7 linked regions of the Homo sapiens genome follow. The protein of the gene in region 1 interacts with the protein of each later gene in a pairwise test. Each region holds a gene or a part of one and is shown in the gene's direction. Other genes may lie near its edges.

Region 1 (4,536 bases):
TAAATAAAAAGATAGACTTTGTGTGTGTGTGCAGCAATCAGGGCAGGGCGGGTGGTGTAGATTATGTAGGAACTCTAATTCTGATGAAGATTTCTCTTTGTATTTTTGAATTAGCAATGCTCTAAAAATGAAGTTTATTCATCTATAAAACGATGCAAATGATTTGAATAGACACTTTACGAAAGGGAATATAGCAAACGGAAAAAAAGCATATAAAAAGATGACCAATGTCATATGTCATTAAGAAGAGGCAAACAAAAACCAAAGAAGGTTCCAATACATGCTTATGAGAATGGCTAAAACCTGAAAATCTAAAATACTCAATGTAAGAGAGGATATAGAATAACAGAAATTCTCATTCCTTGCTAGTTGTGATAAAAAATAGTACAGGCACACTTTTAAGTCAGTATTTTATGAAGCTAATCATATGACAAATTGGAAAAGTTAAAAGTATAGGAACTGAAAACAGAAGACAGTTGCTAGGAGCTTTGTAGAAGTGCGGTGATTGACCTCAAAAGGGATGCACAGGAGAAGTTTAGGCAGGTGGAACTGGTCAGTATGATACTTGGTTGGTAGATATGGGAGTCCATGCATTTTCCAAAATACATATAACTTCACATTCTAGTTAAATCTGATGTGTGTATTTAAAACTTTAATCACGTATTGGTTTTTTAAAGGGTCACGGGTTGCTGAAAAGACAGTGGTTTTTTTCAGGGACTAGGATAGGAAAAGAAGCAACAATAAGGAAGCCTTTAACACAGGGTATGGGAGAGATGACACTAATTTCACTCACAGCAGTAAAGTGGAAAAACTTGGAATGGAATTTAGAGGTCGAAGGAACAAATGTTGCTGTCTGGACAGGAGAAGGAAGGAGTATAGGCTCTTTTAGGAGTCATACCTTGAGAAAGACAGAGGGGCATTCCCACCCCATTTCAGAGGGCAGTGGAGGCCTGCCTTAGGGCTAGGAGGCCCTATCCCACTGTGGATGGATGTGATTCTCCCTCTCTTGCACCTTGCAGGTCTCAGGGATGGGAGGGGCTTATTCGGAGGTGAAAGACTCAGATGCACAGGGTCAGGCATCCCAGGCAGTATCAGGAGTCCAGGCACAGCCTCTCAGGAAGGCTGGAAGGGAACACCCATGACTGGTAGTGCCCCTCCCCTGTCCCTGCTGCCAGCTCTGGAGGACCCCATCAGGGTCCCCAGATGTACAATTTTCTGACTTCCATTTTGAGAGTCAGCAGAAGGGGAGGCTGTTGTCTCTGAGGAGGGCAGCTTCAGTTAAGCAGAGAAAGAAGTCCCAGAACTGGCCAAAAAACAAGAGAGATGTGGAAGGACGGTGACCTCCCAACACGGAGGGGAGGCGCAGACTGCACCAAGCCACTCCCTGCTGACACCCCTGGAAAAAGGAGAGTGGGGTGTCAAGGACTGGGGAGGTGGGAGTGAAGAGGTCCGCAAGGCTTAGGGAGTGAGCAGGAAGGGTTGGAGGGCAGCTGGGAGGTGGGGAGGAAGGGATGGAAAAAAAGCAGAGAGGTGGGGGGTGGTTCCTCCTCAGAGAGGAGGCCCCGCCCCACATTGACGCTGCGTCAGCCCTGGACAACCACGGCAGGGTTCCCGGATGTGCTTTCCCGACGGCCATCTTGGGAATCTGACGGATCGAAGGCATTTGTGAGGAGGCGCGAATCAAGTTAGCGGGGGGAAGAGTCTTAGACCTGGCCAGTCCTCAGGGTGAGGGCCCTGAGGAAGAACTGAGGGACCTCCCACCATAGAGAGAAGAAACCCCGGCCTGTACTGCGCTGCCGTGAGACTGGTAGGTCCCAGACAGGGAAATGGCCCCAGAAGAAGGGAGGAGGTGCCGGCCCTCTAGGGAATAAATAGGAAGACACTGAGGAGGGCTGGGGGAACCCCCACCTCAGAGGGCAGATTCCCAGAGATTCCCACCCTGCTCCTCAAGTATCAGCCCTCGTAGAGCTCCCCAGTCAGCTCAGGCGGGGTGGCAGCCATCTTATTCCTGGGTGAGTGGCGTAGGGGAGGCGGAGGCCTTGGTCTGAGGGTCCCATGGCAAGTCAGCACGGGGAGCTGCCTCTGGTTGGCAGAGGGAAGATTCCCAGGCCCTGCTGGGGATAAGACTGAGGAGTCACATGTGCATCAGAACGGACGTGAGGCTACCCCGACTGCCCCCATGGTAGAGTGCTGGGAGGTGGCTGCCACCGCCCTACCTCCCACTGCTCTCAGGGATGTGGCGGTTGCTCTGAGGTTTTGCCTTAGGCCAGCAGAGTGGTGGAGGCTCGGCCCTCTCTGAGAAGCCGTGAAGTTGCTAATTAAATTCTGAGGGGGCCATGCAGTCCAGAACTATGAGGCTCTGGGATTCTGGCCAGCCCCAGCTGTCAGCCCTAGCAGGCCCAAGACCCTACTTGCAGTCTTTAGCCTGAGGGGCTCCCTCACTTCCTCTTGCAGGTGCTCCAGGAACCAGGTGGTGACGAACTGGGTGTGAGGCACACAGCCTAAAGTCAGCACAGCAGAGGAGGCCCAGGCAGTGCCAGGAGTCAAGGTGAGTGCACACCCTGGCTGTGTACCAAGGGCCCTACCCCCAGAAACAGAGGAGACCCCACAGCACCCGGCCCTACCCACCTATTGTCACTCCTGGGGTCTCAGGCTCTGCCTGCCAGCTGTGCCCTGAGGTGTGTTCCCACATCCTCCTACAGGTTCCCAGCAGACAAACTCCCTAGGAAGACAGGAGACCTGTGAGGCCCTAGAGCACCACCTTAAGAGAAGAAGAGCTGTAAGGTGGCCTTTGTCAGAGCCATCATGGGTGAGTTTCTCAGCTGAGGCCACTCACACTGTCACTCTCTTCCACAGGCCTGTTGGATCTCATCATCCATATCCCTGTTGATACGTTTACCTGCTGCTCCTGAAGAAGTCGTCATGCCTCCCGTTCCAGGCGTTCCATTCCGCAACGTTGACAACGACTCCCCGACCTCAGTTGAGTTAGAAGACTGGGTAGATGCACAGCATCCCACAGATGAGGAAGAGGAGGAAGCCTCCTCCGCCTCTTCCACTTTGTACTTAGTATTTTCCCCCTCTTCTTTCTCCACATCCTCTTCTCTGATTCTTGGTGGTCCTGAGGAGGAGGAGGTGCCCTCTGGTGTGATACCAAATCTTACCGAGAGCATTCCCAGTAGTCCTCCACAGGGTCCTCCACAGGGTCCTTCCCAGAGTCCTCTGAGCTCCTGCTGCTCCTCTTTTTCATGGAGCTCATTCAGTGAGGAGTCCAGCAGCCAGAAAGGGGAGGATACAGGCACCTGTCAGGGCCTGCCAGACAGTGAGTCCTCTTTCACATATACACTAGATGAAAAGGTGGCCGAGTTAGTGGAGTTCCTGCTCCTCAAATACGAAGCAGAGGAGCCTGTAACAGAGGCAGAGATGCTGATGATTGTCATCAAGTACAAAGATTACTTTCCTGTGATACTCAAGAGAGCCCGTGAGTTCATGGAGCTTCTTTTTGGCCTTGCCCTGATAGAAGTGGGCCCTGACCACTTCTGTGTGTTTGCAAACACAGTAGGCCTCACCGATGAGGGTAGTGATGATGAGGGCATGCCCGAGAACAGCCTCCTGATTATTATTCTGAGTGTGATCTTCATAAAGGGCAACTGTGCCTCTGAGGAGGTCATCTGGGAAGTGCTGAATGCAGTAGGGGTATATGCTGGGAGGGAGCACTTCGTCTATGGGGAGCCTAGGGAGCTCCTCACTAAAGTTTGGGTGCAGGGACATTACCTGGAGTATCGGGAGGTGCCCCACAGTTCTCCTCCATATTATGAATTCCTGTGGGGTCCGAGAGCCCATTCAGAAAGCATCAAGAAGAAAGTACTAGAGTTTTTAGCCAAGCTGAACAACACTGTTCCTAGTTCCTTTCCATCCTGGTACAAGGATGCTTTGAAAGATGTGGAAGAGAGAGTCCAGGCCACAATTGATACCGCAGATGATGCCACTGTCATGGCCAGTGAAAGCCTCAGTGTCATGTCCAGCAACGTCTCCTTTTCTGAGTGAAGTCTAGGATAGTTTCTTCCCCTTGTGTTTGAACAGGGCAGTTTAGGTTCTAGGTAGTGGAGGGCCAGGTGGGGCTCGAGGAACGTAGTGTTCTTTGCATTTCTGTCCCATATGGGTGATGTAGAGATTTACCTGTTTTTCAGTATTTTCTAAATGCTTTTCCTTTGAATAGCAGGTAGTTAGCTTCAGAGTGTTAATTTATGAATATTAGTCGCACATGTATTGCTCTTTATCTGGTTTAAGAGTAACAGTTTGATATTTTGTTAAAAAAATGGAAATACCTTCTCCCTTATTTTGTGATCTGTAACAGGGTAGTGTGGTATTGTAATAGGCATTTTTTTTTTTTTTTACAATGTGCAATAACTCAGCAGTTAAATAGTGGAACAAAATTGAAGGGTGGTCAGTAGTTTCATTTCCTTGTCCTGCTTATTCTTTTGTTCTTGAAAATTATATATACCTGGCTTTGCTTAGCTTGTTGAAGAAAGTAGCAGA
Region 2 (3,905 bases), on another chromosome or scaffold:
AAATCACCCCAAGTCTGTGGCTTTTGTTGTAAGGCAGAGCTGCTCTGTGTCAATACCTGGTGTGTGAGAACAGGACGTGGTAGCTGTCATGGGACCCTCTAGCCCATCATTCTCTAGACCTGCACTGTCCAATACAGGATCTACTAGCCATGTGTGGTTATTTAAATTTAATTAGAATTAAATAAACTGAAAATTAATTTCCTTATTCACACTGGCCATATTTTGAGTGCTCAGTAGCCACTTATGGCTAGTGGCTATTGGTTTAGGTGAGCACATATAAAACATTTTTATCACTGCAGAAAGTTCGGTTGAGTAACACAGCTCTAGATTAGTCTCTAACTGCTCAGCTTCTTAACCTTACAGTGATAAGAGCCACCTCTTATAGGTAAGATTTTCTAGAGCAAAGTTGGGCAGACCTTGGGTACTTGTTTTTGTATATGTAGTTTTATAGGAATACAGCCACATCGATTTGTTGACCTATACTTTGGCTGCTTTTGTGTTACAGTGGCAGAGCTGAGTTTTGAGTAGTTATGACAGAGACCATATGTGGCCTGCAAAGCCTAAAAGTATTTGACCCTTTACAAAAAGGTTTGCCTACCGCTTTTATCTAGATCAGGGTTTCTTAACCTCAGCACTGCTGACATTTTGGTCTAGATAATCCTTTGTTGTGGGGCTGTCCTGTGCATTGTGGTGTTTAGCAGCTTCCCTGGCCTTCACCCACCGGATGCCAGTAGCACCGCTTAGATATGACAACCAAAAATGTCTCTAGACATTGCCAAATTCCATGGGGAGCAAAATCACCCTTGGCTGAGAACCACAAATCTCAAGCAATGTGGCTTGGCAAAGCATTCATCTGTAATACTGCAAAGGAGCGCCCATTGTTAAAAGCAAAATTGGTTGAAAGAGCTGACTAAATTAATGAGTAGTTTTTTATGCTACTTAGTATACTTCAGCATTGTCTCCAGAAACAGGAATGTTTTATATAAAACATGACAAAGCAGCTGGAGTGGGGCAGAGACATGGAAGCATTCTCATGTCCTTCCATTTCTCAGGGGTGCTGCAGTTCACTGAGGAGCAGAGTGTGGAAGTTACAGCATATCTGAGCTATGGGGTGTGTGGGTTGTGTTATACCCAGGTTCTCAGGGCCTGCTTTTCTAAAACGCTGGGTAACTGCAGGTGTTTGTTGTTTGCTAACTGTGTGTAGATATCATCTGTGTATGCCTGGCAAGAAAGGAGTTAATAAATGTCACGTCTATAATCCCAGCACTTGGGGAGGCCAAGATGGAAGGATCTCTTGAGTCCAGGAGTTCAAGACCAGCCTGGGCAGCATAAGGAGACCCTGTCTCTATTTAAAAAAAAAAAAATTAGCTGGGTATGGTGGCACATGCCTATAGTCCAATTTACTTGGAAGACTGAGGCTGGGAGGTTGGCTTGAGCCCAAGAGTTTGAAGTTGCAGTGAGGTATGATCACACCTATGCACTCCAACTTGGGCAACAGAGTGAGATCCTCTCTCAAAAAAAAAACTTTTTTAAATAAATAAATGCAGTAGATTGGTGCTTATCTGTCTTATGAATATTTGTAGTCTTATGTGGTCCATATAGATTCCTATCCTCATTACCCAGAATAATTGAAAAATTGGTTATATTTACCTCCATTAGAAGTTGCAAGAATTGAATTAAATGTCAAGTCCTATAAAATTGTGTTCAAGGCTGAGCGCAGTGGTTCACACCTGTAATCCCAGCACTTTGGAAGGCCAAGGCTGGCAGGTCACTTGAGGTTAGGAGTTTGAGACCATCCTGACCAACATGGTGAAACCCCGTCTCTACTAAAAATACAAAAATTAGCCAGGCATGGTGGCAGGTGCCTGTAGTGCCAGCTACTTGGGAGGCTGAGGCAGGAGAATCGCTTGAACATGGAGGCAGAGGTTTCAGTGAGTCAGGATTGCACCACTGCACTCCAGCCTGGGCAATAGAGCAAGACTCTGTCTCAAAAAAAAAAACAAACAAAAAAACCCCACAAAAACTGTCTTCAATTCTTTTAAGACCCAGCATCTGAATACCTTTCAGAGTGGGGGGTTTTGTAAGCTGTAGAAAATGGCTGTGTGAAATAGCCATATAAATAGAGTGAAATAGAATTGGGAAAATTGTCCTTCAAAGTGAATGTCAGGTATATCTTTATCTCGTTCTTCAAATTAAAATTAAAATGTTTAAATTGGTATTGAAATGAATGTGTAATACAAGTCACATGTAATAGAGCACACTCGTATGGAGAATCATCCCCGTGTGAATATCTAAGAAGGTAAGCAGCTTGACTACTGAATGCAAGTGAATTTTAGGTGAACTTGCATTTCCCATGTGTGACATGTTTGTTTGGTTTTTCAGATCTTACCAATATATTTGAGTCCTTCCTGCCTCAGTTATTGGCCTATCCTAACCCCATAGATCCTCTCAATGGTGACGCTGCAGCCATGTACCTCCACCGACCAGAAGAATACAAGCAGAAAATTAAAGGTAAGAGGATGGGTAGTTTAACCTGGAGACAAAAGAACTTAAATCTGTTGGGCTTCAGTCATTAAAAGTCCTTCTTAAATTACTTAGTTCCTAATACTTTTTCTTAGGCCTAAAAAGAGACAGCTGTGGGCTGAAGTAGTGCTCACCAACCTCGGGTGGCAGTAGCACCAGTTTGCTCATCCTTTGCGATTTAGAATCCTATTTTCCCATCCTTAAAACAGTTTACGTGCTGATGGGATATGAGTTTCATTTAAATGAAGATAAGTTTGCGACTGGCCGTGGTGGCTCACGCCTGTAATCCCAGCACTTTGGTAGCCCGAGGCAGGCGGATCACAAGGTCAGGAGATCGAGACCAGCCTGGCCAACATGGTGAAACCCCATCTCTACTAAAAATACAAAAATTAGCCTGGTGTGGTGGCACGCGCCTGTAGTCCCAGCTACTCGGGAGGCTGAGGCAAGAGAATCGCCTGAACCAGGAAGCAGAGGTTGCAGTGAGCCTAGACTGTGCCATTGTACTCCAGCCTGGGTGACAGAGCAAGATTCTGTCTTTAAAAAAGAAAAAAAATCTAAAGCTCCACCTGGGTTCATTGGATTTTCCATTTTACCTCTGTGTATGTTTCAGAACTTTCATAGTGAAAAGTCTAGATACATGAAGCTCCACCAAGAAGCAAAGGAATTCAAAGTTTGTGAAATATACCTGCTGCTTTTAACCAATGGCAGGCATTAGTATCTAGCCAGTTTTTCACATGATGGGCCTATCTGCATAGCAGTCCAGAATGTTTGCTTCCTCAAAATGTGTGGCCTCTCTGAGGTACATTTGCAAGAGGTGGCAGTAGAAGTAATTTACCAGAGCTTGAATGTGCAGGTCTTCACTCTGAAATGTGCAGGTATGAGGCAAACAGGGACTATTCATGAAACAATAGCTTTTCTTCTATTTGTTTTCTAATTCTTCTTCCAAGGTCTCTATAGGGTATTGTTTGGAGCTGTTGTTGAGATAAAGCAGAAATAAATTTACTATAATTAATTAGATCTCAAGTGCTTTGCAAATTAATATCTAATTTATGTAGCAAAATATATAGCTAAGCAAACATGTATTTGAAGAAAAAGGCAGTCAGTTTCAGCCAGATAAAGTGCTGTTATGAGACTATATTAAAATTTTGACATAGGAATCACTTAGCAATGTCTGCAAACCACAGATATCTTGGAGCAGAGTATATTTCTCTAGTTCACATATGCATTCTGTCTCAACAATTTAGCAGTAGCCCTGTTTCAGTACATGTCTGCTATAGTCCCATTTACAAAAAGAACCGAGCCTACATTTATCTTAGAATGGCTCACTCCAGCGTACGGACCCCTAGCCTTCGGAAATGTTCATGTTGGCTATCATTTTGTCT
Region 3 (3,905 bases), on another chromosome or scaffold:
TTGATAAATATGGCCCAGTTGTTCTCAAAAAAGATTATGTCAAGACAGGCATGGTTGTTCCTACCTGTAATCCTAGCTACTTGGGAGGCTGAGGAGGGAGGGTTCGAGACCAACTTGGACAACATAGGGAAACCCTATCCTTTTTTTTTTTTTTTGAGAAGGAGTCTCGCTCTGTCGCCCAGGCTAGAGTGCAGTGGCGCAATCTCGGCTCACTGCAAGCTCCGCCTCCCGGGTTCACGCCATTGTCCTGCCTCAGCCTCCCGAGTAGCTGGGACTACAGGCGCCCGCTACCACGCCCGGCTAATTTTTTTGTATTTTTAGTAGAGACGGGGTTTCAGCGTGTTAGCCAGGAGGGAAACCCTATCTTACAAAAAAAAAAAAAAAAAGATCTTGTCAATTATGTTACCAACAACTGTATGGAGATTCCTATTGCCACACAACTTTGCCTATATTGGCTAATATTATTTTTTAAAATCTTGCATTTTAAAAGATGTTTAAAAGCATCTTATCAGATGCTTTTCTGATAAGAAAAACATCTTGGATTTTTTTTTTTTTTTTTTTTGAGACGAAGTTTTGCTCTGTCACACAAGCTGGAGTGCCGTGGCATGATCTAGGCTCACTGCAACCTCCACCTCCCAGGTTCAAGTGATTCTCCTGCCTCAGACTCCCGAGTAGCTGGGACTACAGTCGCATGCCACCATGCCCGGCTAATTTTTGTATTTTTAGTAGAGACGGGGTTTCACTATGTTGGCCAGGCTGGTCTCGAACTACTGACTTCGTGATCCAGCCGCCTCGATCCTCCCAAAGTGCTGGGATTACAGGTGTGAGCCACTGCGCCCGGCCTGAGATGGAGTTTTGCTCTTGTTGCCCAGGCTGGAGTGCAATGGCGTGATAGCTCACCACAACCTCTGCCTCCCGGGTTCAAGCAGTTCTCCTGTCTCAGCCTTCCGAGTAGCTGGGATTACAGACATGCGCCACTACCTCTGGCTAATTTTGTAGTTTTAGTAGAGATGGGGTTTCTCCATGTTGGTCAGGCTGGTCTTGAACTCCCGACCTCAGGTGATCCACCCGCTTTGGCATCCCAAAGTGCTGAGATTACAGGCGTGAGCCACCGTGTCCAGCCTCATTTTGGCTCTTAATGAAAAATTTTTTGATAGTTTGTTGAGTTTTTATGGCATATATTTCATGGGATTGAATATAGGCATTTTTATAATATGCTTGTTAGTCTGAGAAGAGCAGGTATTATTTTGCTGAATGATTCTGGCTCGGTCTTAGGATGTTGTAATCAAGTTGTTGGCTAGGACTGCAGTCTAGATTTGACTGGGCCTGGAGTATCTGTTTCCAAGGTCACTCATGTGGCTCTTGTCAGGAGGCTTCAGTTCCTCCCCATGGACTCTTCCATAGGGCTACTTATGACGTGGCTTCTCCCAGAACTAGTGATATGAGCGGAGGTAAGGAAGATTGGAGAGATGGATGGGAGAAGAGAGAAAGGGAGGGAGGAAGGGAACTGGAAGCTGTAGAGCCTTTTAAAACCTAATGATAGAAGTGATATACCATCACCTCTGGTGTTTTGTAGTGTTATAATGTGGGAGAGTACACACAAGAGTGTGAATACCAAGAGTGTGAATATCATTGGGCTATCTTGAAGGCTGGCTTCCGCAGGATTTTATTAACTTATTTTTTTTTTTTTCATGTCCTCAAGTAGCAAAGACTTTTTGGAGGCAAGTGATAAAGTGAGTAGGAGTAGTGCTTCATAAAAGAGGAACTATAGGGTTATGGAAAAATTAACTAGGAGTTTTACTTATGGGAGAAAATACAGGAGCAGAGAGGAGAGAAAAGAGGTGAAACATTATTAAATACCTTTGTCTCTTAGCTGCTAGCAATTGAAGAAGCATATTTCCCTACTTATCAATTTAATCTAGCAAATGCACAAATGAATTGATTGTATGCATATAGAAGAAGATTGGATTTCATGTTCTTTTTTTAATTTTTTCTGTTCAAGGATGAACATTGTCTCAATTACAGAAAATGGTAATTTTTTTTCTTTATCAGGCCACCTATTTCAAGAAATGGGCCTTCCATTCTGAAGGCATATAGAATTAGATGGAGGCAGTGGTATCTAATTCTCATTTAACTACAGCCTTTAATAATTTAATTTCTGTCTGGGTGCAGTGGCTTACGCCTGTAATCCCAGCACTTTGGGAGGCTGAGGCGGGTGGATCACCTGAGGTCAGGAGTTCGAGACCATCCTGGCCAACATAGTGAAACCCCGTCTCTACTAAAAATACAATAATTAGCTGGGTGTGGTGGCATGGGCATGTAATCCCAGGTACTTGGGGAGGCTAAGGCAGGAGAATCACTTGAACCTGGGAGGCAGAGGTTGCAGTGAGCCGAGATCACACCACTGCACTCCAGCCTAGGCTACAGAGCAAGACTCCATCTTAAAAAAAAATTAATTTCTATCCCAACCATTCTTGGCAAAACCTGTCTCTGGAAATTTTATGTGCTAAATCTACTTTTTTCATCACGCACGAGACGCAAAGTACAAGATAAGCAAAATCAAGTACCTACCATCTTGATATATAAAGGCAATGTTTTGTGATAGTTACTTAACATCTTTCTCTTTCTTTTTTTCCCTTTTTTTTCTGTTCTCCTATTTCTCTCTCATTTACTGATGTTACTGGATAGTTTATCCTGAAGAGTCCGAATTTTGCTTATTGCATCTCTGTGATATTGTTAAATATGTTCTTCTGTTCTCAGTATTTCCTCTAAATTGTTAGTTATGTTTAAAAGTTTTATCAGATTAAGTTTGAATTTATTTGTTGATAAGAATAATAAGTGGTGTTAACTCATTTAATATACTGATCTTATTCAGTACCTTTGTGCAAATTGGGAAACAGAGCCCCCTCTGGGTAGAAAATTAGGAAAAGGCACTTATTTTAGGTGGAAGATTTAGAACAGGAACATTCTAGATATATTATTTTATAATTTTCTGTTGTGATAAGAGGATATACTCTATAAAATTTCAGTCTTTTGAAGTTTTCTGAAAGCTTGCTTATGGTCCAGCATATGGCCTGTCTTTGTGAACAATCAGTGTACATTTGAAAAGAATATACATTCTGTGGTTGTTGGGTGTAGTGTAGTATAAGTTATAAACGTGGTACATATTACCATACCCATCTTGGTTGATAGCATTACCAGATCTTCTGTATCTTTATTAATTTATTTTATCTACTCATCTTATGAATTACTCCACTATGATTATAGATTTGTCAGTTTTTCTTGTAAGTTTTGTCATACTTTATGCATTTTGGAACTCTCTTGTTGGGTACATATTTGGGATTGTTATGCCTTCCTAATACATTTCTCCTTTTATCATTATGAAATGGCCCTCTTTGTCTCTTGTAATATGCTTTTTCCTGAAGATTCTGTCTGATAATAATTTGGCACTGTCAGATTTCTTGTGCTTACTATTTGATAGTGTGCATTTTTCCGTTCATTTACTTTAAAAAAATTTTTTAACCCATGTAATATCAGTGGCACAATCATAAACTCCTGGGCTCAAATGATCCTCCTGCCTCATCCTCTTGAGTAGCTAGGACTACAGGTGCATGGCACCACACCTGGCTTATTTATTTATTTATGTATTTATTATTTTTATTTTTTGAGATGGAATCTCGCTCTGTTGCCCAGGCTGGAGTGCAGTGGCGCGATCTCAGCTCACGGCAAGCTCCGCCTCCCAGGTTCACACCATTCTCCTGCCTCAGCCTTCCGAGTAGCTGGGATTACAGGCACGGGCCACCACGTCTGGCTAATTTTTTGTATTTTTAATAGAGACAGGGTTTCACTGTGTTAGCCAGGATGGTCTCGATCTCCTGACCTCGTGATCCTCCTGCCTCGGCCTC
Region 4 (3,905 bases), on another chromosome or scaffold:
TGGCTGAAGGACACTGTTGACCCAAAACTGGTGACCCTCAACCACCGCATTGCTGCCCTCACAGGCCTTGATGTCCGGCCTCCCTATGCAGAGTATCTGCAGGTGGTGAACTATGGCATCGGAGGACACTATGAGCCTCACTTTGACCATGCTACGGTAATGGTGGAGTCAATGACCAATCCCCTGGGGTAGGGAGCCAGGGCATTATTTATTTCTCTGAGGCAGAGCTCTTGTAGGCTCTCAGGGAATACTAAGTGAAATCTTAGAACAAAGGTTCTTTTTCCAGAAATATCTGAAAGCCTTAGTTTCAAGCATATTGTTGCTGACTCATTTTCTTGTCTGCCACCATCTCCCTTCTAAAATTTGCTGGTGAGGGAAGAATGTGGCTTGTCATGGAATCATCGGACTGCTCCACTCAGGGACTTCCTAGTGAGGATTGTCCTTCCTCCAGTAACTCTTCTAGCCTCATGATCTCAACTGGCCATCTTTGCTGATAATAGCAAATAATTTTTTTAAAATTTTAGATTCATGGGGTACATGTGCTTGTTTTTTATTTACGTATTTATTTATGTATTTATTTTTTTCTTTATAGGCAGCATCTTGCTCTGTTGCCCAGGCTGCAGTGTAGTGGCACCATCATAGCTCACTGCAGTCTTGAACTCCTGGGCTAAGTGATCCCCCCATCTCAGCCTCCCAAGTAGCTCTAGGACTACACCTGGCTAATTTAAAAAAATTTTTTTTGTAGAGACAAGGTCCTGCTATGTTGCCCAGGCTTGTCTTGAGCTCCTGGGCTCAAGCGATCCTCCCACCTCAGTCTCCCAAAGTGCTGACATTACAGGAGTGAGCCACTGCACCCAGCCATACTTGTTATATGGGTATTGCATGTGTAATGGTGGGGACCACACTTCTAGTGTACCCATCACCCAACTATTGAATGTTTTACCTGACACGTAATTTTTGAACTCTCACTCCCCTTTCACCCTCCCCCATTTTGCAGTTTCCAGTGTTTGTTACCTCCATCTTTATGTCCATGTGTACCCATTGTTTAGCCCCCACTTATAAGTGAGGACATGCAATATCTTATCTTCTGCTTTTGAGTTAGTTCACTTAGGATAATGGCCTCCAGCTCCATCCATGTTGCTGCAGAGGAAATTATTTCATTCTTTTTATGGCTGGATAGTATTCTGTTATGTATATATACCTTATTTTCTTTATCAAATCAACCATCGATGGACATTTAGGTTGGTTCCATGACTTTGCTGTTGTGAATAGTGCTGCAATAAATATCTGGGTGCAGGTGTTTTTTCTGTAATATAATACTTTATTTTCCTTTGGGTAGATACCCAGTAGTGATTTTTGAGGATTAAAATGACCTCCCCAAAATTGATCTATAAATTGAACCCCAGCTTTATAAAAATTCCAGGAGGTTTATTTTTGTAGAAATTAGCATGCTGATCCTAAAATGTATATGGAAATGCAAAAAACCTAGAGCAGCCAAAACAATTTTGAAAAAGAAGAACAAATTGGAGGACATACACTATCTGATCTCAAAACTTAATATAGAGCTACAGGAATCAAGGCAGTGTGGTACCAGTGTAAGGAGAGACACATATGTCAATGGAACAGAACAGAGTCCAGAAACAAACCAACACATTTATGATCAATTGGTTTTGACAAAGGTGCCAAGGAAATTCAATGAAGAAAATACAATCTTTTCAATAGACAGTATTGGAACAATTTAATATCTATCTGCAAAATAATAATGACTTTACACCCTTACCTTACACCATATATGAAAATTAACACAAAATGGGTCATAGATGTAAATGTAAAACTATAAAACTTCTAGAAGAAAACATAAGAGAAAATTTTTGTGACCACAGGTTAGGCAAAGATTTCTTAGATATGACACCAAAGTATGATCCATAAAAGAAGAAAACAACTGATAAATTGGACCTTATCAAATTAAAATTCTTTGCTTTTCAAAAAACATCATTAGAAAAGGAAAAGACAAGCCACCAACTAGGAGAAAATATTTGCAAATCATATATTTGGTAAAGAACTTGTATCCAAAATATCTATAGAACTTTTATAACTCAGTAATAAGATAATTCAATTTTTTTTAATGGACAGAAAGTTATTTGAGTAGGCACCTCTCCAAAAAGGATAAATGAATGGCTAAGAAACATATGGAAAGATGCTCAACATCATTAGGGAAATGCAAATTAAAACCACAATGAGATAGCACTGCACTCTCTTATGATGGCTACAATAAAATAAGATTATACCAAGTGGTGGTGAGGATGTGGAGGAACTGAAGCTCTCATACACTGCTAGTGGGAATGCAAAATTATACAGACACTTTGGAAAAAAGTTTGATGGTTTCTTAAAAAGTTTAAGATTCACCTACTTATGATCCAGCCATTTCACACCTATGTATATTACCCAAAAGAAAAAGAAAATATGTCTCTACAAACATTTGTACAGAAAAGTTTATAGTAGCTTTATTTGTAATAACCAAGAATTGGGGCTGGGCACGGTGGCTCATGCCTGTAATCCCAGCACTTTGGGAGGCCAAGGCAGGCGGATCACGAGGTCAGAAGATCGAGACCATCCTGGCTAACACAGTGAAACCCCGTCTCTACTAAAAATACAAAAAAAAAAAAAATTAGCTGGGCATGGTGGCAGGCGCCTGTAGTCCCAGCTACTTGGGAGGCTGAGGCAGGAGAATGGCATGAACCTGGGAGGCAGAGGTTGCAGTGAGCTGAGATCACGCCACTGCACTCCAGCCTGGGCAACAGAGTGAGACTCCATCTCAAAAACAAAAAAAAAAAAACAAAAAAAAAACCAAGAATTGGAAACAGCCCAGATGTCTGTCAACAGGTGAACGGATAAACAAATTTTGATATATCTGCACAATGGAATGCTATAGAGAGAAAGCAGATAAGTGGGTTGCCTGAGGTTGGAGGTGAGAGCAGGGATTGACTCCTAACTGGCATGAAGGAGCTTTTCAGCAGATGGAAGTGTTCTGTGTTCTAAACTTCAATTGTGGGAAAACTCATTGAACAGTAGGCTTACAAGGGGTGAATTTTATGGAATATAAATCATATCTCAAACTGTTCCATGACAAAAAAAAAAGAGTATGTCTCTTCAGCAAGTAATTGGAACTCTGGCCTTATGATTTGGTATTTCTACAGAATAATTGTCTGTAATATTTTATATATTAATTTCTATATTTCACAGAGAACTCAAAGGTGCAATTAACCCCTCATATAGTACTTTCACTACTGACAAGTAGTTCTGTTTGGTAGTAGACAATTCTTTTATATAAGTATCTAATAAATTAGTAAAAAAAAAAATTGTATTGAGTACCTGCCAGCAAAGACGGGCACATACTCCAGTAGGTGTATATCAGAACTATATCCCATCTTTGATGCCCCCATTTTACTTCTATTTGTATTAATAGTGGAATCCTGCCTGTCCCTCTGGTGCCATCTGCATAAAATAATATGTTCTGTTTTTTTTTTTCTCAGTCACCAAGCAGCCCCCTCTACAGAATGAAGTCAGGAAACCGAGTTGCAACATTTATGATCTATGTGAGTATTGCTCTGGGCTTCTTACTTCATGACTGACTATAGCTCTACTTTATTTTATTGTTTTCAAAGCAATTTCACGTATTGATTTTATCTGGTACTCAGCGCAAAAATCTCCAGGAATTTTGCGAATTTCAGACAGCATTTTTGATAGGCACTGTAGGAGATGTAAAGAAATACAAGACAAGGTTTCTACCCTGAAAGAGGCTGACAGTGTGTAAATCTAAATATGACCTTGGTATGGGCAGTGGATTAGGATGGGAAGTGGAGCTCCACTGAAGGCCAAGAGATAGAGGGACTTGAACAACACAG
Region 5 (3,905 bases), about 90 Mb from region 1:
GTCTCCTCAAGCCCAGCTGCTTTTCAGCTCAGCTACCTGAGAAAGATCCTCAGGCATTTGTTCCCTCATACACATCAGGGCTGAGTGAAAAAAAAAAAAAAAATTGCATGCAGAAAGTTAACTACAGAGGCCATTCATATAAAATTTTAAAACATGCAAAAGAAGAATATATATTTTATGGATAATAAGTAAATGGTAAATGTATACAAACATGAATGTGAATAAAAAGCCATCAAATTAAGGTGACTGGCTGTAAGTGGAGGAGGGAGGGAGGGCGGGCAGGGATTACTGAGTGCGGCACAGACAGCTTCAGCTGTGACTTGTTGATAGTGTGTTTTGTTTGTTTTTGTTTTTGAGATGGAGTTTCACTCTTCTCGGCCAGGGTAGAGTGCAATAAGGCAATCTCAGCTCACTCCAACTTTCACCTCCTGGGTTCAAGTGATTCTCCTGCCTCAGCCTCCCGAGTAGCTGGGGTTACAGGCACGTGCCCCCACACCCAGCTCATTTTTTAATTTATGGTAGAGACGGGGTTTCACCATGTTGGCCAGGCTGGTCTCAAACTTCCTGACCTCAGGTGATCCACCCGCCTCAGCCTTCCAAAGTGCTGGGATTACAACTGTGAGCTACCACGCCCGGCCTATTTGCAGTTTTTCTAATATTCTGAATAAATAAATCAGACCTAACATAGCTGTGGGGTAATGTTGAGATCCGACTGGACTCAATATTATTCCCCATACTTTTCTGTGTGTTTGAAATATTTCTTTTTTAAACGACATGTTGTTCTTCCTAAGCACCGTTAATGAATCAAAGGACTGCTAAAAAAATGCTACAAGTGAAAAAAAAAAAAGAAAGAAAGAAAGAAAGTGTTAAAACTGTAGATCCGCCAAAAACTTCCAGAGTTTGTTTCATTAACAGCATGTAGGTATTGGATAGGTATCTTAGGAGTGAGGGTGATGAACACATTATGTAATAAAGATCGCTGTTTCTCTGTATTGGTTTATCAAAACCAAATAGTCTTCTCATTCCCAAAGAACCCTGATTCTCCGTAATGAGCTTGGAAGAGAGTTTGAAGGAGTGATCCCTTATCCAACACACAGAGAGCTTTCCCACTTGTCAGAGAGCAGAGATAACATAGGGTGAAAAAAAGATAGGTTCTTGGGTAGAGAGCTTTGTACATTTCAGGAATATAAAGGGGACATATGTATTTACTTGCTCTTCTACTCTGACAACATAATTATAAGACAAGGTCAGAATGTCCAAACCGTCTCCAATAGACCTATTACTCGCCAACTAAACAGGCCAGATTCTACAATCTCCCGCAATCACTATAAGAGACCTGAAAAGCCAGTGCTTGAGTATCTGCCAAGTTTTGACAGTAAAGGAGTGTCTTTATACTGAAAATATTTCAGAGCCACTGGACCAAATCATCCATGGTTCATCACACATTTAACAGCTTAATTCACATACCATAAGATTCACCCATTTGAAGTGTACAATGATTTTCAGTTGTTGCACATCTTGAGTGGATACAGTTCAGATTCCTAACCAATCAATTTAATTATTTGGGAAAAAGTAAAAGATATGTAATGGAATAAGATGAGACTGTGATGGGGTGTAGTCCCCATGTGATAAACCATGAGATGGAAAATTCTGAATTGATGCCACAGATAAATGCACCAACCATGACTAAACATAATTCAGAAGCAAATCTGAAATAACTCCTCAACAATGAGTGGACTCATAACCCTCTGCTGCAGAATACCCTGATGCGACAGAAGTCTCTCTAGAGTTTGGAAACCTTTACCAACAAAGAAAAATTCTGATGTATTCTCTTTCAGTTGAACGTCCTCAGATGACTTTCGGCAGGCTCCAGGGAATCTCCCCGAAGGTGAGTGTCTCTCAGATCTAAAGGACCAGAGAACCTTTGTCCCTCCACGGATGCGAACACTGGTAAGAGTGGGAGAATATCAAAAATGCCCTCACTGCCTTCTTCTCCCCATGTCTATCACAACACCTGATGTCGCACCGACGGCTTGATAGTACCAACAGTTGCGATTGTTAATACTTCTTTTGTTTTCATAGTGATGCCAGATACTATTTCAAGCAGTTCACATGGATTAATTTATTTAATCCTTAAGAAGACATTGTTTCTATTATCTCCAAATAATAATGAGTCACACACTTCAGTTTTCATCCATATGAAAGCCATGTGACTTGACACAAATCTTCTAAGTTCTCTGAGCTCCAGATTCCTGGTCCATGAAATGGAAGTAAAGAATTATAGTTCATGTTTTAGATCATAGTTATCAGCAACATAATAATAAAATGAGGCTATCGTGGTACAGAGATGTTAAAGAATTTTCCTGGGGCGCAGTGGCAGTGGTAGTCTAATCCAGAGCTCCAAGCCATTTAAAGCTCATTCACATTTGCATTTGTCTATGAAGTTCAGATGTTGCTCACTAGGGCTTCACCCCATAGGGCCTGCTGGTGCTTCCAATGAGACACCCACTCTCTCAACAGGAAGGACCATCTGGTCTCTGCTGTGTTGCTGGGGCCACTTGCATGGCTTAGGAATCACTTTGATTGTTGGCCCCTCCCTACTGTGAGCTCCTTGAGTGCCTTGTCTGCACCTGGGGCATCTGGGAAGGCCCAGTCCCAGCCCAGGGGATCCCTCGGAGGCCCCTGAATGAGTGATCCCACAAGTGCAGATTCAACTCTGGTTTGGAGGGTAAAGGGATCTGGGAGTTGGGTTGCCAGTGTGGAGACTGAATTCAAAGAAGGATTGTGAAAGGTATTAATTGTTATTATTACGACATTTAAACAGTGTTTACAAGCTCAGAGAGGACTTTACTGTAGGCTATTTGACATGTATGGTTCACTATTTCATAAGGGAGGAAGCTGAATGAAAAGTAGCTTAAGAGCCGGGCGCGGTGGCTCACGACTGTAATCCCAGCACTTTGGGAGGCTGAGGCGGGCAGATCACGAGGTCAAGAGATCGAGACCATCCTGCCCAACATGGTGAAACCGTGTCTCTACTAAAAATACAAAACTTAGCGGGGCGTGGTAGTGCCTGCCTGTAGTCCCAGATACTCTGGAGGCTAAGGAAGGAGAATCGCTTAAACGCGGGAGTCGGATGTTGCCTTGAGCCGATATCATGCCACGGCACCCCAGTCTGGCGACACAGTGAGACTCCGTCTCAAAAAAAAAAAAAAAAAAAAAAAAAAAGAAAGAAAGAAAGAAAAAAAAAAGTAGCTTAAGATTGTTGGTCAGTGACACATCCCAATGCAACCAGAATTGGTATGGGTACCACCTCACTGAATTCCACATTGAATGTCGGTGCCCCAGTAGGGTAGTATGTCATATCTGGTACTGCTTTGTTTGCTGCCTAGATTAATTTCGGCAAACCATTTCTTTCCCTCTCCCTTCCCTGTATTCATCTCCCCACACCATCTTTCCCAGCAGTGTTTTGTCGCCTCCCTATGTTTTTACATTTACTCTCCCAGCAGCTGTCTAGAAGCTTATATGGGATCCCTTGTATTTTACAGAACCTCTTCCCTTTGTAGACCTTGTGAATTCTTAGAATGCTACTCTTCTCCAAATCATCTGTATATCACACTCTCAATTACATGGAGATTTTTGCTGTTTGCAAGAATGTCAGTCCTAAAAGAGTGGGAAGATAAGCATTCTATCCCTGGAAACCATATTCACTTAGGCCATTCCTTTCCCTTCTAACCTCCCCTCCCAGGTTTCTCCTAATTTAGGCCTGTGTAACTCTCCCAGTGTTGTTGAGAACATTGAATAAGCTAATGCATGTGAAGACCCTTTGTAAGCTCAAAAGCACTATAGATATGTCACTGATACTATTTATCTGTGATCTTCACATTATAAAGATCATGCCCAAGAAG
Region 6 (4,617 bases), about 94 Mb from region 1:
CACCCACTGACTATGTGACTTTGAGCAGACTGCTTAATTCTCTTGAGCCTCAGTCTCAACATCTGCATACTGGGGATGATAATAGTATTTAACTCCAGAGAAGGTTGTGAAAATTAATGGGAAGATGCACATAAAAGGCTTTGTGCTGGGCTCAAGGGCCATTGCTCTGTTCCTGCCCTAAGAGAGCTTGCTGTAATCCTGGGAGGATCTTAGAGAGATCAGGGCTGTAGGTGGAAAGCCCAGAGAGGAATGGGGACTTGTTGGAGGTACTAGGGATGGGGGTAGGGGAAACTTCTTAGACAAATTGACTTATGAGCTCCCTGATGAACACAGTGGGCCCTAATTACATACTCTTTTTAATACTATTATTATAAATATTATTAATATCAATGGGTAAAATATATTTCTGCTTCTTTGGTCTTTTAGAAAAAAACATATATGGAAGTGTAGAAGTGTTTTTTTTTGTTTAAATTTCTTTTTTAAAAATTTTTTATAGAGATGGGGGTCTCACTATGTATCCCAGATTGTTCTGGAACTCCTGGCCTCAAGTGATCCTTCCACCTCCTGCCTCAGCCTCTCAAAGTGTTGGGATTACAGGCATGAGCCACTGGGACTGGCTCATTGAAATTTTTCTTTCTTTCTCTTTCTCTCTCTCTCTCTTTTTAAAGACAAGATCTCGCTCTGTGGCCCAGGTAGGCAGGAGTAGCCAGATCATGGCTCACTGCAACCTCGTACTCCTGGGCTCAAGCTATCCTCCTACCTCAGCCTCCTGAGTAACGGACTACAGGCACACCACCCCACCTCGCTAATTTTATTTATTTTTTTTGTAGAGAAAAGAGACAGGGTATTGCTCTGTTGCCCAGGGTGGGGTGCAGTGGCATGATCATGGCTCACTGCAACCTCTGCCTCCCAGGTTCAAGTGATCCTCCAGCTGTGGCCTCCCTAAGTGCTGGGATTACAACCGTGAGCCGCCGCACCGGCCCAAATTTCTTACGTCACTACAGAGTTCCTAGGAAAAAATCCCATACCTGAAAAAGATAGAAACTGACAGGAAGGATTTGAGATGATGACCTGCTTCATATACACTCCTTATTAAAACTGGATAACAATGCACCACCGAGGAGGTGGGGAGGGATAGGAAAAATGAAAAGAGAAAATCAGCGCATGCGTACTCTGATTTGGGAAGACTCCAAAGAGAAAATCAGAGCATGCGTACTCTGAACTTGGAGTAGCCAATCCCAGGGGATGCTTTAGGCGGGAAAGTCAGAGTTTCTGCCTCCATTTTGAGAAGGTTCTGTCCCTAGAGCCTAGACTGATAGACCCCACATCAGCTTGGCTTGTCCCGCCTACTGTTCTGACTTCTGATTGGCCAGATGGAGTTCACTAACTGCCCTGATTGGTCCATCATCCTGGAGCAATGACATTGCAGAATATTTTCTCCTCCTCCAGCCACACTTTGTCACCAACTGCTGCCAACTCGCCACCACTGCTGCCGACCTCGCAACCACTGCTTTGTCTCTGAAGTAGGTTCTCTTTAAGGGACACCCTAGATGGGCTAATCGGGGCAGATAGAAAAGGAGGAAGCCTCTGTAGGGCCGTCAAGTGCTTGGGGTTCCGAAAATCTTGAGGACTGAAAGACAACTAATGCCTTTCAGGACGATCATCATGGAGGATCCTCCCGCCTCGGCCTTGGGTCTACAGGCCTGTATTATCCCACCCCTGTTTTTTTTTTTTTTTTTTTAGTAGAGACGGGGATTTGTTATGTTGACCAGGCTGGCCTCAACCGCCTGGGCTCAAGCAATCCTCCCGCCTTGGCCTCGGGACTACAGGCACGAACCACCCCACCCTCACTAATTTTTTTTATTTTTTATTTTTTTAGTACAGACGGTTTTGCTATGTTGGCCAGGCTGGCCTCTGCCGCCTGGGCTTAAGCAATCCTTCCGCCTCGGCCCTGGGACTACAGAAGTGCACCATCCTGCCCATGCTTTTTTTTTTTTTTTTTTTAGTAGAAACCAGGTTTCACTATGTTGGCCAGGCTGGCCTCAACCTCCTGGGCTCAAGCGATCCTCACACCTTGGCCTCAGGACTACAGATGTGTGCCATTCCGCCCCTGCTAGTTTTGTTGTTGTTGTTCTTTTTAGTAGAGACAGGGTTTCCTTATGTTGGCCGAACTGGGCTTGACCTCCTCGGCTCAAGTGATCCTCCCACCTCGGCCTCGGAACTACAGGCAAGAACCACCTCGCTGATGTTATTATTTTTGTTGTTATTATTAGTAGTAGAAATGGGGTTTTGCTATGTTGGCCAGGCTGGCCTCAACCTCCTGGGCTCAAGAGATCCTCTTGCCTCGGCCTCGGAACTACAGGCGAGCACCACCCCGCCCCCACTAATACTTTTTATTTTATTTTATTTTTTTTAGTAGAGGGTTTTTCTAGGTTGGCTAGGCTGGTATCAACCTCGTGGGCTCAAGCGATCCGCCCCCCCTTGGCCAAAGAGCTGAGATGTTATAGGCCTGTGCCACCGCCCCCAGCTAATTTTTTGTGTGGTTGTTTTTTTTTTTTTTTTTTTTTTTTTGTAGAGATGAGGGGTTTGCTATGTTTCCCAGGCTGGTCTCAACCTCCTGGGCTCAAGAGATCTGCACGCCTCGGCCTCCCAAAATGCTGGGATTACAGGCATGAGCCACTGCGCCTGGCCGATTGCTGCAAATTGAAACACCCCACATTTTCTCTAAGTGATGGCAGGCTCTTGTAATCTCAGAGATTCTAGCTCTCTTCCTTCTAATAATTTACAAATAACCCAGTAATAGCTTCTAAATCTGTTCATATTAGTGAAGGTCATTTCTCTTCAACAGAACAGAACCCCCCCATCCCTCTGCCTGATCAGATCCATCACCAGAAAGACCACGTTATGTCTGGGACTCACTTCCCTCCCTTTATTTATTGAGTGGGGGTGTCAGAACGCCCCCATTCAATAAAATTACACAGTCACGTCCCTGCCTCCCCAGCAAGGGTCTGTACATCTTTCAGGGTAAGCCTAGCCCCAGGGAAACTACTAACAACACTAGCCAACCCCCTCCCAAAGACTCAAGGCTGCTAGGAAACCTGTCATCCCCAAGCAATACTTCTCCCAGAGACTCCAGGCTCCCTGTTTTCATCTGACTTCTCTCCATGTCCTTACCCATGGACAGGTAAGCCCCGAATGGAGAAATGCAACCCCTAATTCCAGGTGACTGAGTGTGGCCGGGCTTCACTGATTTCTCCCTCCATAGGACCAAGGGTCCTGTAGCTAGAAAGTCTCAGGCTGTTTCTCTTGCAGGTGAGACTGCTCCTGGTGCCATGAACGGAGACGACACCTTTGCAAAGAGACCCAGGGATGATGCTAAAGCATCAGAGAAGAGAAGCAAGGTGACGTGACCTGGAGGGGGCAGAGCAGTGGTCCAGGGGACAGAGTAGGGTGACCAGGTTTCTGAGGAGGGGAGGACAGAGGTACTGGGGACAAGGAGCAGGGTCTCGGGGGAGATCTGGACCCTTGGGAGCCTCCCACCTGTGTTCTGTCATCACCTAGCATCCCTGGAGACAAGTCTCTGACCTTGCTCTACATTTGGTAACTCTCAGTCCATTCTGGAAGGTGGGAAGAGAGCCAGACAGCAGCATTAAAGCCCTAATGTGTGCCACGGGAGAAGCTAGGGTAGGTCCCCCATGGTCTCTCAGTTAGCCATGGCATCAACCAGGACGGATTATCATCCTCACTTCCCAGATCCAGCACACAGGAAGCGGCTCCAGCTGAATGGCAGACATACCTAGCTGAGTCACTGACAAATTTTATTTTATTTTTTTTAGGCCTTTGATGATATTGCCACATACTTCTCTAAGAAAGAGTGGAAAAAGATGAAATACTCGGAGAAAATCAGCTATGTGTATATGAAGAGAAACTATAAGGCCATGACTAAACTAGGTAACAGAAAGTTCTAGGAACAGACAAGTCTGGGGATACATGAGCATCCCTTTTCCTGCTTTGGCTACTTCTTAGGCTGCAGAAAGTACCCCACATTTTCCTTTTGTGCAGGGAAAAATCGCAAGGCAGCTTCTGGGGGTTCTGCTCTTCTGTATCCTGTCAGAGCTGAGGGCAGGGACTGGCCATAGTGGAGCTTGTACCTGGACCTTGCACTTTTCTCTCCCTTAGGCGTCTGTTCTGATCAGCCCAGCTGTCTCTGTGGCATTGCAGCACACCTCCCACCCTACCTTCCTCCTCTCAGCTTGTCTCTTTCTCTCTCTCTCCCTTTTTTTTTTTTTTTTTTTTTTTTGAGTCAGAGTCTCACTCTGTCACCTAGGCTAGAGTGTAGTAGTGCAATCATAGCTCAATGCAGCCTCGAACTCCTGGGCTCAAGCAATCCTTCTGCCCAGCCGATGGAGTAGCTGAGGATATGAGCACATGCCTCCATGCCCAACTAATTTTATTTTATAATTTGTAGATATGGGGGTCTCTCTATGTTACACAGGCTCATCTTGAAATCCTGGCCTCAAACAATCCTCCTGCCTCAGCCTCCCAAAGTGCCGGTACTACAGACATGAGCCACCATGCCAGGCCTAAGTTTGTCCCTTAAGGAATAAACATTTTGCT
Region 7 (3,905 bases), on another chromosome or scaffold:
TCCTACCTAGAGAGGTATGGAGAGAGGCTAGATGCTAGATGGGGCATTCAGCCAGTGGGGTCCACATGGTTGGCTTTTTTTTTTTTTGATAAGAGAACTGAATGACAGGATATTTCTGAAACTTTTGTGACATTTCTTGAAGTGATTAGGAACTTGACAGGGTATTTCTCAACTGGAGATGCTGTATTAATTAAAACATTGACTTCAGGACTTCAGGTAATGGAAAGTAATTCAGATCTGCTTTGCTTTTTTTTTTTTTTTTTTTTTTTTTTTAGGGAGGAGATGGAGTCTTGCTTTGTCACCCAGGCTGGAGTGCAGTGGCACAATCTCGGCTCACTGTAACCTGCGCTTCCTGGGTTCAAACGATTCTCCTGCCTCAGCCTCCCCGAGTAGCTGGGATTACAGGCACCCGCCACCACACCTGGCTAATTTTTGCATTTTTAGTAGAGACGAGGTATCACCATGTTGGTCAGGCTGGTCTCGAACTCCTGACCACAAGTGATCTGCCTGCCTTGGCCTCCCAAAGTGCTGGCCCAGATCTGCTTAAGCAAAAAAAAAAAAGCATTTATTGGAAAGATAAAGAAATATCCTACAGAACCCAGTGGCAGGAATGAGGTGAGGTCTCAGGAGCTAGAAACTTTAGTTCTTTTTTCCTCTCTCATCTCATCTGTCCTCTCTACATCTCCATTCTTATTTTATAGATTGCCGTTCTTTGGTCTTCATGGCAGGTACGCAGCCCCCACTGCTTGTGAGTGTATGTGACACAGGGCCAGCTACCTCAAGGAAGTGACTCTTAGTTGACTGACTGGCTCAGCTTGACTGCCTCTAATCTAACTGTAGCTAGTGTGGGGGTGGAGCACACAAAATCTTTGGTACAAATATAGCTGTTACGAATCCACTTCTGTGTCTCTGAGGACGGAAGAAGGCAAGTCCTGAGAAGGGGGCATATCATCATGAGCTGGTTAGATCCTTTAGAAGGTTTTTCCTAGAGATGTGACTAACTCCTCTAGAGATACCAACCACAGTCCATGGGGTCTGTAACAAAATGTAACACCTCTTTCTATACTGTTTATCCCTTCATTTTATGTGTACAGTAAGGGATACTGTTTATCCCTTCATTTCTGTAGGGCAGCACAGCTGGGTTTTTGTAGATGCTTTGTAATTACAATGATGAAACAGGCTGGGCATGGTGGCTCACGCCTGTAATCCCAGCACTTTGGGAGGCCAAAGCGGGCGGATCACTTGAGGTCAGCAGTTAGAGACCAGCCTGGCCAACATGGTGAAATCCCATCTCTACAAAAAAAAAAAAATACAAAACTTAGCCCAGTGTGGTGGCGGGCGTCTGTGATCCCAGCTACTCAGGAGGCTGAGGCAGAGAATTGCTTCAACTCGGGAGACGGAGGTTGCAGTGAGCCAAGATTGTGCCACTGCACTCCAGCCTGGGCAGTAGAGTGATACTGTCTCAAAAAAAAAAAAAAAAAAAAAAAAAGGAAAAGAAAAAGAGATTGATCTGTGGTTATATCTTTTAATTTCTCTCTATCATGCTCAGGCTCAAAACTGAAGGAGATCTTTGACAAGATCCACAGCCTGCTCTCTGGAAAACCTGTTCAATCTGGTGGGCGCTCTGTGTCTGTCACACTTAACCCACAGGGGCTGGACTTTGTTCAATACAAACTGGCAGAGAAATTTGTGGTGAGAAACCTTGTTGCTAGAGGTATGGGAAGCAGAGGCTGGTGTACAAGATTTCAGCCTTTTTCTGGTATTAAGTTAAAATTGTACCCACCTCTATGTTCTCAGAAACAAGGCGAGGAGGAAGTGGCCTCTCACCATGAAGCAGCATTCCCCATTGCAGTTGTGGCATCCGGGATCTGGGAGCTCCACCCCAGAGTGGGGGACCTCATTCTTGCTCATCTACATAAGAAGTGTCCTTACTCTGTTCCTTTCTATCCCACTTTCAAGGAGGGAATGGCTTTGGAAGACTATCAGAGGTAAAGTTGTTTTTCTCCCTACTCACTATCCCTAGAGTGATTAATGAAATATAAATAGAATTGGAATTTGTTTTTCCCTCCTCACAGCTCCTATTACGTACCTTGAATGTTCTATCAGAAATATAATGTCTTTCGGCCGGGTGCAGTGGCTCATGCCTGTAATCCCAACATTTTGGGAGGCCAAGTTGGGTGGATTGCCTGAGCTCAGGAGTTTGAGACCAGCCTGGGCAACATGGAGAAACGCCATCTCTACTAAAAATACCAAAAATTAGCCAGGTGTAATGGTGCACACCTGTAGTCCCAGCTACTCAGGAGGCTGAGGCACGAGAATTGCTTGAACCCGGAAGGCGGAGGTCGCAGTGAGCCAAGATCGCACCAGTATACTCCAGCCTGGGTGACACAGCAAGAGTGTGTCTCAAAAAAGAAAGAAAAAATATATATACATAGTCTTTTATGTAAACTGGAGAGCCTTTGGGATTTGTGAACTTAGGTGCCAGTAGTCAATGTAGTTTAGTGGAAAGGATACTGGGGTCTTGGAATTTTATCCCTGCTTTGTCATTTAATACCTTTGCAAAAATGGACAAATCATTTAGTCTTTTTGAGCATCTTTTCCTGATTTTTAAATGAGGGTAATGACATCTATTACCTCCTGTGAATTTACCTCATGGCTTACATGAAGCTCAGATTTGATGATGGATATGAGTGCTTGGTAAACAAAGTATTCTACAGATGTAATAATATGTAATAATATATATACATATTTTTTATTTTTTTTATTTTTTTTTGAGACAGCGTCTCGCTTTGTCACCCAGGCTGGAGTGCAGTGGCGTGATCTCAGCTCACTGCAACCTCTGCCTCCTGGGTTCAAGTGATTATCCTGCCTCAGCCTCCCGAGTAGCTGGGACTACAGGCGCCCACCACCACGCCCAGCTAATTTTTATACTTTTAATAGAGATGGGGTTTCACCATGTTGGCCAGGATGGTCTCGATCTCTTGACCTTGTGATCTGCCCGCCTTGGCCTCCCAAAGTGCTGGGATTACAGGCGTGAGCCACCACGCCCGGCCTGTAATAATATATTAATAGTAATGCTGAGTGTAATAATATATTGTTATTTTTTAGCCATAAAAAGTAATCTCTGGGCCAGGTGCAGTGCCTCATGCCTGTAATTACTTTAACAATTTGGGAGGTTGAAGCAGAAGGATCGCTTGAGCCCAGGAGTTCAAGACCAGCCTGGGTAACATAGTGAGACCCTGTCTCTACAAAATTAGCCAGGTGTTGGCTGGGCGCGGTGGCTCACGCCTGTAATCCCAGCACTTTGGGAAGCCAAGGCCGCCAAAGCGGGCGGATCACCTGAGGCCAAGAGTTTGAGACCAGCCTGGCCAATATGGGGAAAACCCGTTTCTACTAAAAATACAAAAAATTAGCTGGGCATGGTGGCAGGCACCTGTAATCCCAGCCACTCAGGAGGTTGAGGCAGGAAAATCGCTTGTACCCAGGAGGTGGAGGTTGCACTGAGCCGAGATCATGCCATTGCACTCCAGCCTGGGCAACAAGAGTGAAACTCTGTCTCAAAAAAAAAAAAAAAAGGCCAGGCGCGGTGGCTCACATTTGTAATCCCAGCACTTTGTGAGGCTGAGGCGGGCAGATCACCTGAGGTCAATAGTTCAAGACCAGCCTGGCCAACATGGTGAAACCCTGTCTCTACTAAAAATACAAAAAATTAGCCAGGTGTGGTGGCAGGTGCCTTAATCACAGCTACTCGGGAGGCAGAGGCAGAAGAATCGCTTGAACCCGAGAGGCGGAGATTGCCTGAGATCGTGCTATTGCTTTCTAGCCTGGGCGACAAGATGGAAATTCCATCTCAAAAAAAAAAATTAGCCGGCTATGGTGGCATGTGCCTGTGGTCCTAGCTACTC

The links.
Region 2: the proteins of MAGEC2 (region 1) and UBE2H interact in binary tests that used the Homo sapiens proteins (3 or more experiments, as listed by UniProt).
Region 3: the proteins of MAGEC2 (region 1) and MNAT1 interact in a two-hybrid assay, tested with the Homo sapiens proteins (one study listed by BioGRID).
Region 4: the proteins of MAGEC2 (region 1) and P4HA3 interact in binary tests that used the Homo sapiens proteins (3 or more experiments, as listed by UniProt).
Region 5: the proteins of MAGEC2 (region 1) and SSX2 interact in binary tests that used the Homo sapiens proteins (3 or more experiments, as listed by UniProt).
Region 6: the proteins of MAGEC2 (region 1) and SSX1 interact in binary tests that used the Homo sapiens proteins (3 or more experiments, as listed by UniProt).
Region 7: the proteins of MAGEC2 (region 1) and GLE1 interact in binary tests that used the Homo sapiens proteins (3 or more experiments, as listed by UniProt).

Annotation. Positions count from the first base shown.
Region 1 is NC_000023.11:142,202,374-142,206,909, reverse strand, and holds the start of MAGEC2 (melanoma-associated antigen C2), read left to right. Parts: upstream 1-1,619; 5' UTR 1,620-1,807; intron 1,808-2,454; 5' UTR 2,455-2,548; intron 2,549-2,856; 5' UTR 2,857-2,922; coding exon 2,923-4,044; 3' UTR 4,045-4,536. UniProt on the Homo sapiens protein: Proposed to enhance ubiquitin ligase activity of RING-type zinc finger-containing E3 ubiquitin-protein ligases.
Region 2 is NC_000007.14:129,837,813-129,841,717, reverse strand, and holds part of UBE2H (ubiquitin-conjugating enzyme E2 H), read left to right. Parts: intron 1-2,382; coding exon 2,383-2,511; intron 2,512-3,905. UniProt on the Homo sapiens protein: Accepts ubiquitin from the E1 complex and catalyzes its covalent attachment to other proteins. E2 ubiquitin conjugating enzyme that transfers ubiquitin to MAEA, a core component of the CTLH E3 ubiquitin-protein ligase complex.
Region 3 is NC_000014.9:60,737,712-60,741,616, forward strand, and holds part of MNAT1 (CDK-activating kinase assembly factor MAT1), read left to right. Parts: intron 1-3,905.
Region 4 is NC_000011.10:74,273,236-74,277,140, reverse strand, and holds part of P4HA3 (prolyl 4-hydroxylase subunit alpha-3 isoform 1 precursor), read left to right. Parts: coding exon 1-156; intron 157-3,533; coding exon 3,534-3,596; intron 3,597-3,905. UniProt on the Homo sapiens protein: Catalyzes the post-translational formation of 4-hydroxyproline in -Xaa-Pro-Gly- sequences in collagens and other proteins.
Region 5 is NC_000023.11:52,700,564-52,704,468, reverse strand, and holds part of SSX2 (protein SSX2), read left to right. Parts: intron 1-1,838; coding exon 1,839-1,888; intron 1,889-3,890; coding exon 3,891-3,905.
Region 6 is NC_000023.11:48,253,910-48,258,526, forward strand, and holds the start of SSX1 (protein SSX1), read left to right. Parts: upstream 1-1,482; 5' UTR 1,483-1,523; intron 1,524-2,141; exon of another isoform or gene 2,142-2,227; intron 2,228-3,312; 5' UTR 3,313-3,332; coding exon 3,333-3,401; intron 3,402-3,836; coding exon 3,837-3,951; intron 3,952-4,617. UniProt on the Homo sapiens protein: Could act as a modulator of transcription. Plays a role in spermatogenesis.
Region 7 is NC_000009.12:128,531,964-128,535,868, forward strand, and holds part of GLE1 (mRNA export factor GLE1), read left to right. Parts: intron 1-701; coding exon of another isoform or gene 702-728; intron 729-1,549; coding exon 1,550-1,692; intron 1,693-1,797; coding exon 1,798-1,988; intron 1,989-3,905. UniProt on the Homo sapiens protein: Required for the export of mRNAs containing poly(A) tails from the nucleus into the cytoplasm. May be involved in the terminal step of the mRNA transport through the nuclear pore complex (NPC).